2 separate regions of the Homo sapiens genome follow, and region 1 is linked to region 2. Evidence: fine-mapped expression QTL. A gene starts in region 2. The other region holds a variant in brackets. All regions are shown on one strand. Distances are from middle to middle. Region 1 overlaps BBS4 (Bardet-Biedl syndrome 4). Region 2 holds the start of BBS4 (Bardet-Biedl syndrome 4).

Evidence for each region. PIP is the estimated chance that this variant, and not a neighbour inherited with it, causes the effect.
Region 1: its variant is fine-mapped to the expression of BBS4 in whole blood (TOPMed, PIP above 0.99).

Annotation. Positions count from the first base shown.
Region 1 is chr15:72,721,600-72,726,973 of GRCh38, reverse strand. It overlaps BBS4 (Bardet-Biedl syndrome 4), which reads right to left. Exons shown (of 16, transcript NM_033028.5): 7 at 4,127-4,180; 8 at 2,319-2,446. Among named protein-coding and RNA genes, the nearest start is that of BBS4, 38 kb to the right of the region's middle. The variant A/T (reference allele first, on the strand shown) is at 2,603.
Region 2 is chr15:72,683,425-72,688,798 of GRCh38, reverse strand. It overlaps BBS4 (Bardet-Biedl syndrome 4), which reads right to left and starts at 2,592. Exons shown (of 16, transcript NM_033028.5): 1 at 2,548-2,592. The coding sequence starts at 2,571. It overlaps HIGD2B (HIG1 hypoxia inducible domain family member 2B), which reads left to right and starts at 2,617. Exons shown (of 3, transcript NM_001350932.3): 1 at 2,617-2,981.

The DNA.
Region 1 (5,374 bases), 38 kb before region 2:
TTCAAAGCTGTAGGTCATGAACAATGGTCTCTATCTTCTCAGTAAGGCTTCAGATTTTAGCTGTCCACATTTCTCCCTTAGGAAATTTAGTGACCAAAGTCCTTGATCAGTTACTGGAAGAATGTTCCCCTTGGGATTTATGTATGCTATTCTCAAAGAGCTAACCTCTAGAAGGCAGGGGTCAGGGATCAGGGCTACTACCTAGCACCACAGAGGCACTGAACATGTTACATGGCTCCTTACTACTTGCCCAAATATACAGCCTCTTGATGACAAAAGTCTGTTCTGTAGCTTAACAAACCAAGGGATTTTTCTGTTTTAGACACAAAATATGGTTGAAGAAAATTCAGAAAGCAGTGCTGTGACTGATATAACCAGAAAATTTACTACCATGGTAGAAGACAAAGATGATTAACAAATTAATAGAAATCTAAGTTTAGTTCAGAATCTAATTATTAGGAATAATAAGCCTTGAACCACAGACCAGACATTCTATTAAGGGACCAAACAAATGAGACAAGGCATTTTGCTACAGCTATCCCATTTAAAAGTAACAACACAAGGCTGGGCGCAGTGGTTCACGCCTGCAATCCCAGCACTATGGGAGACCAAGGCAAGCAGATCACTTGAGGCCAGGAATTCGAGACCAGCCTGACCAACATGGTGAAACCCTGTCTCTGCTAAAAATACAAACATTAGCCAGGGGTGGTGGCGTGCTCGTGCAGTCCCAGCTACTCAGGAGGCTGAGGCATGAGAATCGCTTGAACCCAGGAGGCAGAGGTTGCAGTGAGGCGAGATCGCGCCACTGCACTCACCCCTGGGCGACAGAGCGAGACTGTTGAAATAAATGAAAGGAAGGAAAGAAAGGAAGGAAGAAAGGAAGAAAAGAAAGAAACAAAGAAAGATGGGAATGGGAGGGAGGGAAAGGATGGAAAGAAAAGAGAGAAAAAGGAAGGAAGGGAGAGAGGGAGGGGAAAGGGGAAGGGAGATGGGAAAAGGGGAAAGGGGGAAGGGAAAGGAGGAAGGGGAAAGGGGGAAGGGGAAAGGGGGAAGGGGGATGGGGAAAGGGGGATGGGGAAAGGGGGATGGGGAAAGGGGGATGGGGAAAGGGGGATGGGGAAAGGGGGATGGGGAAAGGGGGATGGGGAAAGGGGGATGGGGGAAGGGGGATGGGGGAAGAGGGAAGGAGGAAGGGGAAGAGGAAGGGGGAAGGGGGAAGGGGGAAAGGGAAAGGGGGAAGAGAAAAGGGGGAAGGGAAAACGGGGAAAGGGAAGGGGAAAACGGGGAAGGGGAAGGGAAAATGGGGAAGGGGGAAAAAAGATACTGGTCTCATGCTAATAAGGCCAAATGTTTTGTTTTGTTTTGTTTTGTTTTTTACTGAATCAGGAGATTTCTGTCCCTAATAATATCTCTGAAAACAGAAGATCTGTTATTAACATATGATACCAAAATGGCAGACTGTCGGCCAACTCTTAAATCTGTTATTTCCTTCTTCTTGAGTGCATGTCTGCCCACTTCCCTTGTAACTATCATGTAGTTTTGAACCATGGAATGTAAGCAGGAACGATGTGTGCAATTTCTGGGTCATTTAAAACTTATTACCAAGGCCAGGTGCAGTGGCTCACACCTGTAATTCCAGCACTTTGGAAGGCTGAGGCAGGAGGATCGCTTGAGCCCAGAAGTTTAAGACCAGCCTGGGCAACACAGCAAGACCCTGTCAACACAAAAACAGTTTTTTTTTTTAAATTAGCTGGGCATGGTGGCACATGCCTGTAGTCCCAACTACTTGGGAGGCTGAGGTAGGAAGATTGCTTTAGCCCAAGAGGTTGAGGCTGCAGTGAGCTGTGTTCTCCACTGCACTCCAGCCTGAGTGATGGAGTAAGATCATGTCTCTCTCTCTCTCTCTCTCTCTCTCTATATATATATATATATATAGCCAGATGCTTATTCCATGCTTAGCTTCCCAAACCATCTCCTTCCACCACAGCCTGGATGTGGATGTTACATTCAGCATCAACCATGCAGGTAAAGACAACAGCCTAAGGAATGGTGAGTTAATAAGGAAGAAACCTGGATCCCTGGCTGACCTTGTAGAATAGAGCTGCCCAGCTAACCTAAAGCAGCAGTCATCCTTATAGGTAAGAAAGAAACACAGTCTACCTTATTGAAGCTACTGGGAGCTCTTAAACTTCAGCTTAACCTTTAACTCATACAGTAAGTAATTAATCAAACATATTCACTCTTTTAGGCTTGGGAGTTCACATATCCACTCAATTTTTTTAGTTTCTCACTGTTTTAAAGGAAACAGATACACTTACTCCACTGCTTTCTTGTAGACTTCAATGGCCTTGTCCAAGTCTCCCTCCAGCAAGTGGATCTTCCCCAGCATTATATAAGTCAGATCGTGCCTATTAAGATTCAGGGCATTGTGCAACTGGTCTTGTGCCTGACAAGTTTAACAAAATAAAGAAAACCAAATCACTACCACTGAACGAACTATACCTTTATATGGCTAATGTAAAGACACTTTCTGCTGTATTGACATAGGAACATCACATTTCAGCAAACAGCCCCCACTACCCAAAGACCAAAACATACCAAA[A/T]CTGTCCTTGTTGAAAAGACAGCTGGCAACATGGGATATCTGCTTCTGGAGCCACTTGGAAGAATTTATACAAGACGATTAATCTTTCTGAATGTTTTCTGCCTGATATTCACACCTATGACTCATACTTCATAAGTCAAAAGGGCCATCATAGTACAGTGTAGAGTACTACACTAAACTAAATCCCAGCTGTAACACTGACCAAGTGCACAACCTTCCCTATGGTGGGCCAGGTTTCCCCATCAATGTGATGATAAATGAATAAATAGATTGTTCTCATTTATTCACCCAACTGCTTGCTGTTCTAGATGCTAAATATATTTGAGTTTATAAAACCAACTCCTTGCTCTGGAGGAGCTTACCTTCTCCTAGTAAACAAAAGGGCTTTGTTTAGTCATTCACAGATTCAACAAGCATTTATATAAATGCCAGGTATTGTATTTGCCTAGCCTGTTAGCTGTACAGTAAAATCTAAATATATTTCTTCTCAGCACAGATCCAACCAAAGACAAATCCTTCTTTTCCCCTGACTCAGAATAATCCTGTGAATAGAAATGTGCCTGTTTGAAATTGTCTCTGAAGAGAAAAATCTCCTAACCAAGTATATAAAACTATAGATCCATCTACAAAACCTAAGGGGCCCACTAAATGTATTTTATGTATATATATTGTTATCTCAGGAGAAAAGTTACTTTTACACCCCAACTGCTAATGTGCATATTTTTTTTCACACCAGTGTGGGATACTAGTTACACCAGTCTGCAAATTGACACAAACTAAACATTGTCAAATGGGTACTAACCAATTCAGATTCTCAGTCCTGGTGGCATCGGAGAAAGGAGAATAAAACTTCACAATCACTAACTGTGAGCTCTATGAAGGAAACTACCCAACGCTCTCATCACTAAGTTTTAGAGCTCTCAGTAATTTTGTCTACTCCTCAATTATGATATATACTTTTTCTTACCTGAGTACCAAATTTGAGGTAAGCTCAACTTGTCTTCTCTGATATAGGAGTCTATAGCTTAATCACAGTGAAATATAATTTCTCATCATGGAAAATAACTATAAAATTAAAACTGAAAACTCAGAAATCAGATCCACTTAAAATTTAAAATTTATTTTCAATGACCCTAAAAACTAAGTTGCCGTCAGGGCATGGAGATAGCTCACATGGTCATGATCACACCTTTAAGACTTAAGGGTCCACTTTTTGATATGTATGTTTTATTAAGCATCTGTTTCTAAACTGGGAAATTTAACTGGAGGTAGAGAAAAAGAAGAAAGGAGAAAAACTGCCATTCCCTCATATTTCTAGAACTTTCCATGTTCTTATTACAAGCAGAAAACAACAGATGAATAATGACAAGTGAGAATTAAAACAGAAAAAAATGTATAAAGGTACTTTCAATTTTCAGTTCCAAAAACCTCTGCAAGCACTAGGGATAATACCAAATGAGCAATGTAACAACTTCTGCAACAAGTGCACCCTCAGTGAAATCTATCACCACTTCTATAAATTACCTTGTTGAACTGCTTCAGGTATATGTAGCAAACTCCTAGGTTATGGCTGATCTCCTAGGCTCATAAAAAAGAAGGAAAACAACTCAGGTGTAATTCCACAGTAAGTATTAGAGTGAAACAACAGACATCTAGAGATTGTTATTGCTCGGCAAGGTTTAAACTTTAAACTATGCATTACAGTCAGCTTTTTATTAGAGTTCATACTCAAATTAATTGTTAAAAATAAGTTCCTCAACATAAAAAAATACAGATTATAAGAAATAAAAGCAGAATAAACAGGTGATCTTCCTGGATCTATGGGGAACCCTGGGGCACATACCCAGCCCATCCCCATACCTTTTTTCTTTAAGAGTTGCCCATCACCCATACCCTTTGCTCCTTCTTCTCAGGAGAGACTACCCACAGCCCCTGCTGAGAGGGCTGCTAGCCACACATTTCCGCCCTTAAGGCAACACAGTTGGATAGTGACACCTGACACAACTGAAGTCCTTTCCCTAGGAATCTGGAATTGGAAGAGAGCTAGTTAGTTACAAGTACTAAATTTACTAGGTGATGTGAACTTGAGGACTGACAGCGCCACCTGGAGTCTGCTGTGATGGAATACATGTAATTGGAGCCATCTGCAGAAGTCTAGAGCTGACATGGGAAAACTATGGTCCATGGGCCAAATCCATTCCCTGCCCTTTTTTATAAGTACAGATTCATTGGAACACAGACACAACTATTGTTTTTGTATGGCTCTTTTGCATTAGAACTGCAGAGTTAAGTCGTTGCAACAGAGTCTGTATGAAGCTATACAAATTAAAATATTTATTAACTGGCCCTTTACAAAAAAAGTTTGCCAACCTTTGATCTACAGAAAGAAAAGATGAAGCAGAAAAGGCAGAGTAGCTACCTTGGATGCTGAAGCGTTCCAGTTCTGCTTCACTAAAAGACCAACCTGCATCTCTTGATACTGTTTTATGGACTCTCAAATTCCTTTATAATAAACCTCCCTTTATTTAAGGTAGCTTTGGAAAAGGAGAAAGCAAGGGTAAGGAAAATGCTCTTGGGAAACATAGTAAGAACTACCCTATTAGTAGTGGAGATGTGTCCCTGTCTGAGGAAACATGGACCCCCAGGCTCAGAGATAACAACTGATTTAATGTTTTCCAAGTCTCCAAAAATAGTAAAAACAACAAAACAGCAACCATTGGTTGAGCACCTACTAACATCAGGCTTTATGCCAGATGTTTTCATATATGTTAC
Region 2 (5,374 bases):
GCCCTAGTACTACACGCTCATGTTTAACACTTTTTTCTGTGGGACACAGGTCTAGGAGTAGGATTACTGGGTTCTTTTAATTGTATTAAAAAATAAGGCAGGGGGCCATGGCTCACGCCTGTAATCCCAACACTTTGGGAGACCGAGGCGTGCAGATCACAAGGTCAGGAGTTCAAGACCAGCCTGGCCAACGTGGTGAAACCCCATCTCCACAAAAATAAGCCAGGCATGGTGGTGAGGGCCTGTAACCCCAGCTACTCGGGAGGCTGAGGCAGAAAAATCACTTGAACCCGGGAGGCAGAGGTTCCACTGAGCTGAGATCACGCCACTGCACTCCAGACAGGGCGACAAAGTGAGACTCCGTCTCAAAAAAAAAAAAAAAAAAAAGATAAAATACCACTTCCTAAAAGGACAGAAATTCACATTTCCATGCATTGGTAACTTGAAAAGATGAAAATTACTATAAACGTAACACTACTAGCAATAAATTTGACAACAATGAAAACAGTTAACTTCAGGCTTAATTGCTAAGTCATATCGAAACAAAAGCTATTCTCTTTAAAACAGTATTAGACATTCAAATGTACATGACAATTCTGCCGTCACAGACTCAAGTTCATATTCTATTACACAAACACTTGTGATGAGCACTAGAGGATAAGCTATATTTGTAGCAATGTTATGTTACCCATTATCTTTTACACTTTAAGATTACTTAGAAGTATTTTCTTTTTTTTTTTTTTTTTTTTTTTGAGACGGAGTCTTGCTCTGTCACCCAGGCTGGAGTGGAAGTATTTTCTTTCCTATGTTTTTAATATTTAAAACCCAGTAACATTAACCATGCTATTTACTTTTTTTTTTTTTCTGAGACGGAGTTTTGCTCTGGATGCCCAGGCTGCAGTGAAATGGCACGATCTCGGCTCACTGCAACCTCTGCCTCCTGGGTTCTAAGCGATTCTCCTGCCTCAGCCTCCCTAGTAGCTGGGATTACCAGCGCCCGCCACCACGTCCAGCTAATTTTTTGTATTTTTTTAGTAGGGACAGGGTTTCACTACGTTGGCCAGGCTGGTCTCGAACTCCTGACCTCAGGCGATCCACCCACCTCAGCCTCCCAAGGTGCTAGGATTACAGGCGTGAGCCACTGAGCCTGGCCTATTTAATTATTTTAAAATCTGTTTTTTCTTTCTTTTTTTTTGAGAAGGAGTCTGTCTCTGTCGCTCATGCTGGAGTGCAATGGCATGATCTCGGCTCACTGCAACCTCCGCCTCCGGGGTTCAAGCGATTCTCCTGCCTCAGCCTTCCAGGTACCTGGGATTACAGGCGAGCGCCACGATGCCCCGCTAATTTTTGTATTTTTAGTAGAGACGGGGTTTCACCATGTTGGCCAGGATGGTCTCAAACTCATGACCTCAAGTGATCCACCCGTCTCGGCCTCCCAAAGTGCTGGGATTACAGGCGTGATGCACCGCGTCCGGCCTAGCTATTTTAAATTTCTTAGCTTAATAAAAATGTTTCGGCCGGGCGTGGTGGCAGGCGCCTGTATTCTCAGCTAATCCGGAGGCTGAGGCAGGAGAATTGCTGGAACCTGGGAGGCGGAGGTTGCAGTGAGCCGAGATCGCGCCATTGCACTCCAGCCCGGGCCGACAACAGCGACACTCCGTCTCAAAAAAAAAAGTTTCTGTCTTCAGAGTTTTCTAATTAGACTAGAATAATATGACTACTCTGCAAATGAGAGTAGAAAACAAACAAAAGGCCCTCTAACAATAACACTAACCTTGCTGCTTAGCCAAAACTAAGTTGTAAAACAGCCAAAGGCTGCTATTTGTACTGTTTTCCAGGGCGTTTTTCGAAAGACAATAAATTCCGAATACCTAAAATCATTCTAACAAATGGACAGAACAGGCTTTCAAACCCAACACTAAAGCAAGGTAAACAAAGCTTCACACTTGGCACTTTACCGAAATTAGATCCAATTATAGATATATGCCTCAAAAAATAGCGACTAGGTCATCCTGAATTCATCGGGTTCCTCTATATTAGCAGTTCTGTGGAGTGAACGCCCAACTCAGCCTTCAGATGAATTCCAAAACCGTACTTTCCTAAACTTAATCACCACAGAAAAAACACAGTCCCGCTCCACTGGCAGAAGGCAGTGACGCTGCAAGCTTCCAGGCATGTTAAATTCCCAATTCACGGGATTAACAGGAACTGTCTACACAAGTGCTAGTCATTACCTTCCAAACCCCCGAGACAGAAAAAGATGGCACTACGGTAAGAGCCATTACTGGTGAAAAGTCTCCCTTCTCCGTCCAGCGCACCCCAAGAGGGACTACAGTCCTAGAACAGGACCTGTGCTGCTAAGTATCCAGACTTGCCCCAGGCGACCAGTTCCCGGGACAGTAAAAAGGGGACCGTGTCGCCCCGCCCACCCTGAGACGCTCGGCACCCAGCTCCGCCTCTCTCCAGGAACCGCTGCATGGGACAAAAGCCACCCGCCAGCTTGCCTTGCCCTGCGGCCGGGCAACTAAAGAGAATCTCGGCGCTCACCGTCGCGACTCTCTCCTCAGCCATTTTAGCTCAGCCCACCGCTGCGCGGCCGGAAGTCGGCGGTTTCCCAGACGACGAGGCAAGCGGAAGTCGTAGGGCTGTGGAGGACTGTGAGGAAGCGGGGGAAGGAAGTAAATCGCCGAGTGACCTAAGGAATCAGGGGGAGGATTAGGGTCTGCTCCACAGAAGGCTTACCTCTGAAAGAGTCGGGGAGGGAATGCGCAGCCACTCGCTGCCTTTATCCCGAGAAGCCCCTAACACCCCTCGCCGTGGTCTGTACATGGTCTGTACCTCCGGCCGCGCTGGCTGGTAGGCCAGCCACCTGGGATGGCAGCCTAGTTCTCCCGCCACCTTACCCTGCCCTGACTCTAATCTGCATTTAATTCAGTCCTTCTTCCGGGAGATTTCGGCGGAGAATTTCTTTCTCGCCTTAGGTACAAAACTCCCCGTTTCTTGGCTGTCACTATCGAACTGAGGTACTCACCTTATCAGCTTCCCACTCTTGTTTACTCCAGAGTTTGCAAACATGCTCCTGGTGGGCTGCATTTGAACGGCAGTCTTTTGATTGGAAATATTTAAAAGTTAGGAGATTTCACAAGAAATCGGCCATGGGATAAAGAGACGACAGTCGGCGTTTTCTGCAAGGCAGTGAAATAGATCTGAATAGCGGCTGCGACTGTAGATAACTTCCCTTCCTAACATACTTAAGGCGTTCTCCATTACCTGTCTGGCCCCCGGTGCGGTGAATTAAATGTTTAGTGTTTCTAAACTAGGAAAACGTGTGGGCTTTGGAATCAAACATGAGTTCTGAATTTGACTACTGCATGACCTAAGCCCGTCGTTTCTTTGAGCCTCATTTATTAAAGTGCCGGGAGCTGTGTGATGAACAAAACGGAGGATCCCTGCACCTGAGCACTGACATTAGCCCCAATTCATACTTTTAAGTCTCGCCCTTGTAATTTAGACATAAAATCTGCCTCTCCCAATTCATTAACTGGGAAAGCATTTAAGACAAGTTTCTCCAGGCCTCTAAGAGAGGGAGAACCCCACTGACAATTAGAGTTACATAGAAGAAACAAGTACGGTAATCTATCCAAATACAAGGGGAAAGGACAGCAATAGAATAACAGCTCTTCTAAGTATTTCAGTAACACTCTCTCTTTTAATCTTTATAACAATCCCATGAGACTGTTGGTCTCCCACTTTTTTCAGATAAATACTCTGCCTTTCATTTATTAAAAATAAAATTTTCCAGCTTGGCCAGCATGGTGAAACCCCGTCTCTACTAAAAATACAAAAAATTAGTCGGGCATGGTGGTGCCCGCCTGTAATCGCAGCTACTCGGGAGGCTGAGTCAGGAGAATCACTTGAACCCAAGCGGCAGAGGTTGCAGTGAGCCGAGATCGCATTTCTGTGCTCCAGCCTGGGCGATAGAGGGAGACTCCGTCTAAAAAACAAAAATTTGCTGGGCTCGGTGGCTCACGCCTGTAATCCCAGGACTTTGTGAGGCTGAGGTGGGCAGATCACCTGAGGTCAGGAGTTCAAGACCAGCCTGGCCAACATGGTGTAACCCTGTCTCTACTAAAAATACAAAAAATTATCCGGGCGTGGTGGCCGGCTCCTGTAATCCCAGCTACTAGGGAAGCTGAGGCAGGAGAATTGCTTGAATCCAGGAGGTGGAAGTTACAGTGAGCTGAGATCATCCCATTGCACTCCAGCCTGGGCAACAAGAGCAAAACTCTGTCTCAAAAAAATTTTTTTTCAGAGGCAGGGGTCTCACTATTGATGTCCAGACTGGACTTGAACTCCTAGGCTCAAGTAATCCTCCTGAGGCAGGAAAATAGGGTCTGGAGGTAGGGAACATAAGGCCAATTCACACTTCAGCTATAACAGGTAATATTCTGTCCATAGGGCATAGGCCATAAATGTCTTTGTAACTTTACTTCATCTTCTCTATTTACATAAGGCATACCCGAAGTAACCATGGAATCCTCTGGGGTTATTTAAACTCCCCAAAATTCTGTAACGGAGCCACTGAACTTCTAAGCTCAGGCCCGCTCCCACACTGGAGTGTACTTTCATGTTCAGTAAATTCCTTGTCCCTTCCTTGCTTTGTTTGTGCATTTTGTCCAATTCTTTTTTCAAGACACCAAGAACCTGGACACCCTCCACCTTTAACACTTCCACCTCATCCTCTCAAGTAGCTAGGATTACAGGCACCAGTCACCATGCCTGGTGCTAAATTCTCCACTTTTCAGAGATTAATTAAACACCTTGCCTAAGTGAGCCGAGATCGTGCCACTGCACTCCAGCCTGGGAGACAGAGCAAGACTGTCTCAAAAAAAAAAAAAAAGATATAAAGATGAAAAATTATTAATTTCTAATCCACAGTGCTTAGTTTTTTTGTTTTTGGGACAGGATCTCGCTCTGTTGCCCAGGCGGAAGTGCAGTGGGACAATCACGGCTCACTGCAGCCTCTACCTCCCAGGCTCAAGTGATCCTCCCACCTCAGCCTCCTGAGTAGCTGGGACTACAGCTTCATGCCACCACACCCAGCTAATTTTTGTATCTTTTGTAAAGATGGGGTTTCATCATGTTACCTAGGCTGGTCTCAAGCTCCTGAGCTCAAGCAATCCAGCCAACTTGGCCTCCCAAAGTGTGGAATTACAGGCGTGAGCCACCCCGCCCAACCCACAGCGCTTAGTTTCATGCAGTTTTTCAGTATTCCAGTCCTCTTCATGGGCGGGGTTACTACGCAACACTGGCAGTCTAGGAAGAAATCATTCCAAAGGATCAAAAAAAAAAAAAAAAAAGGAGGAATTGAAGC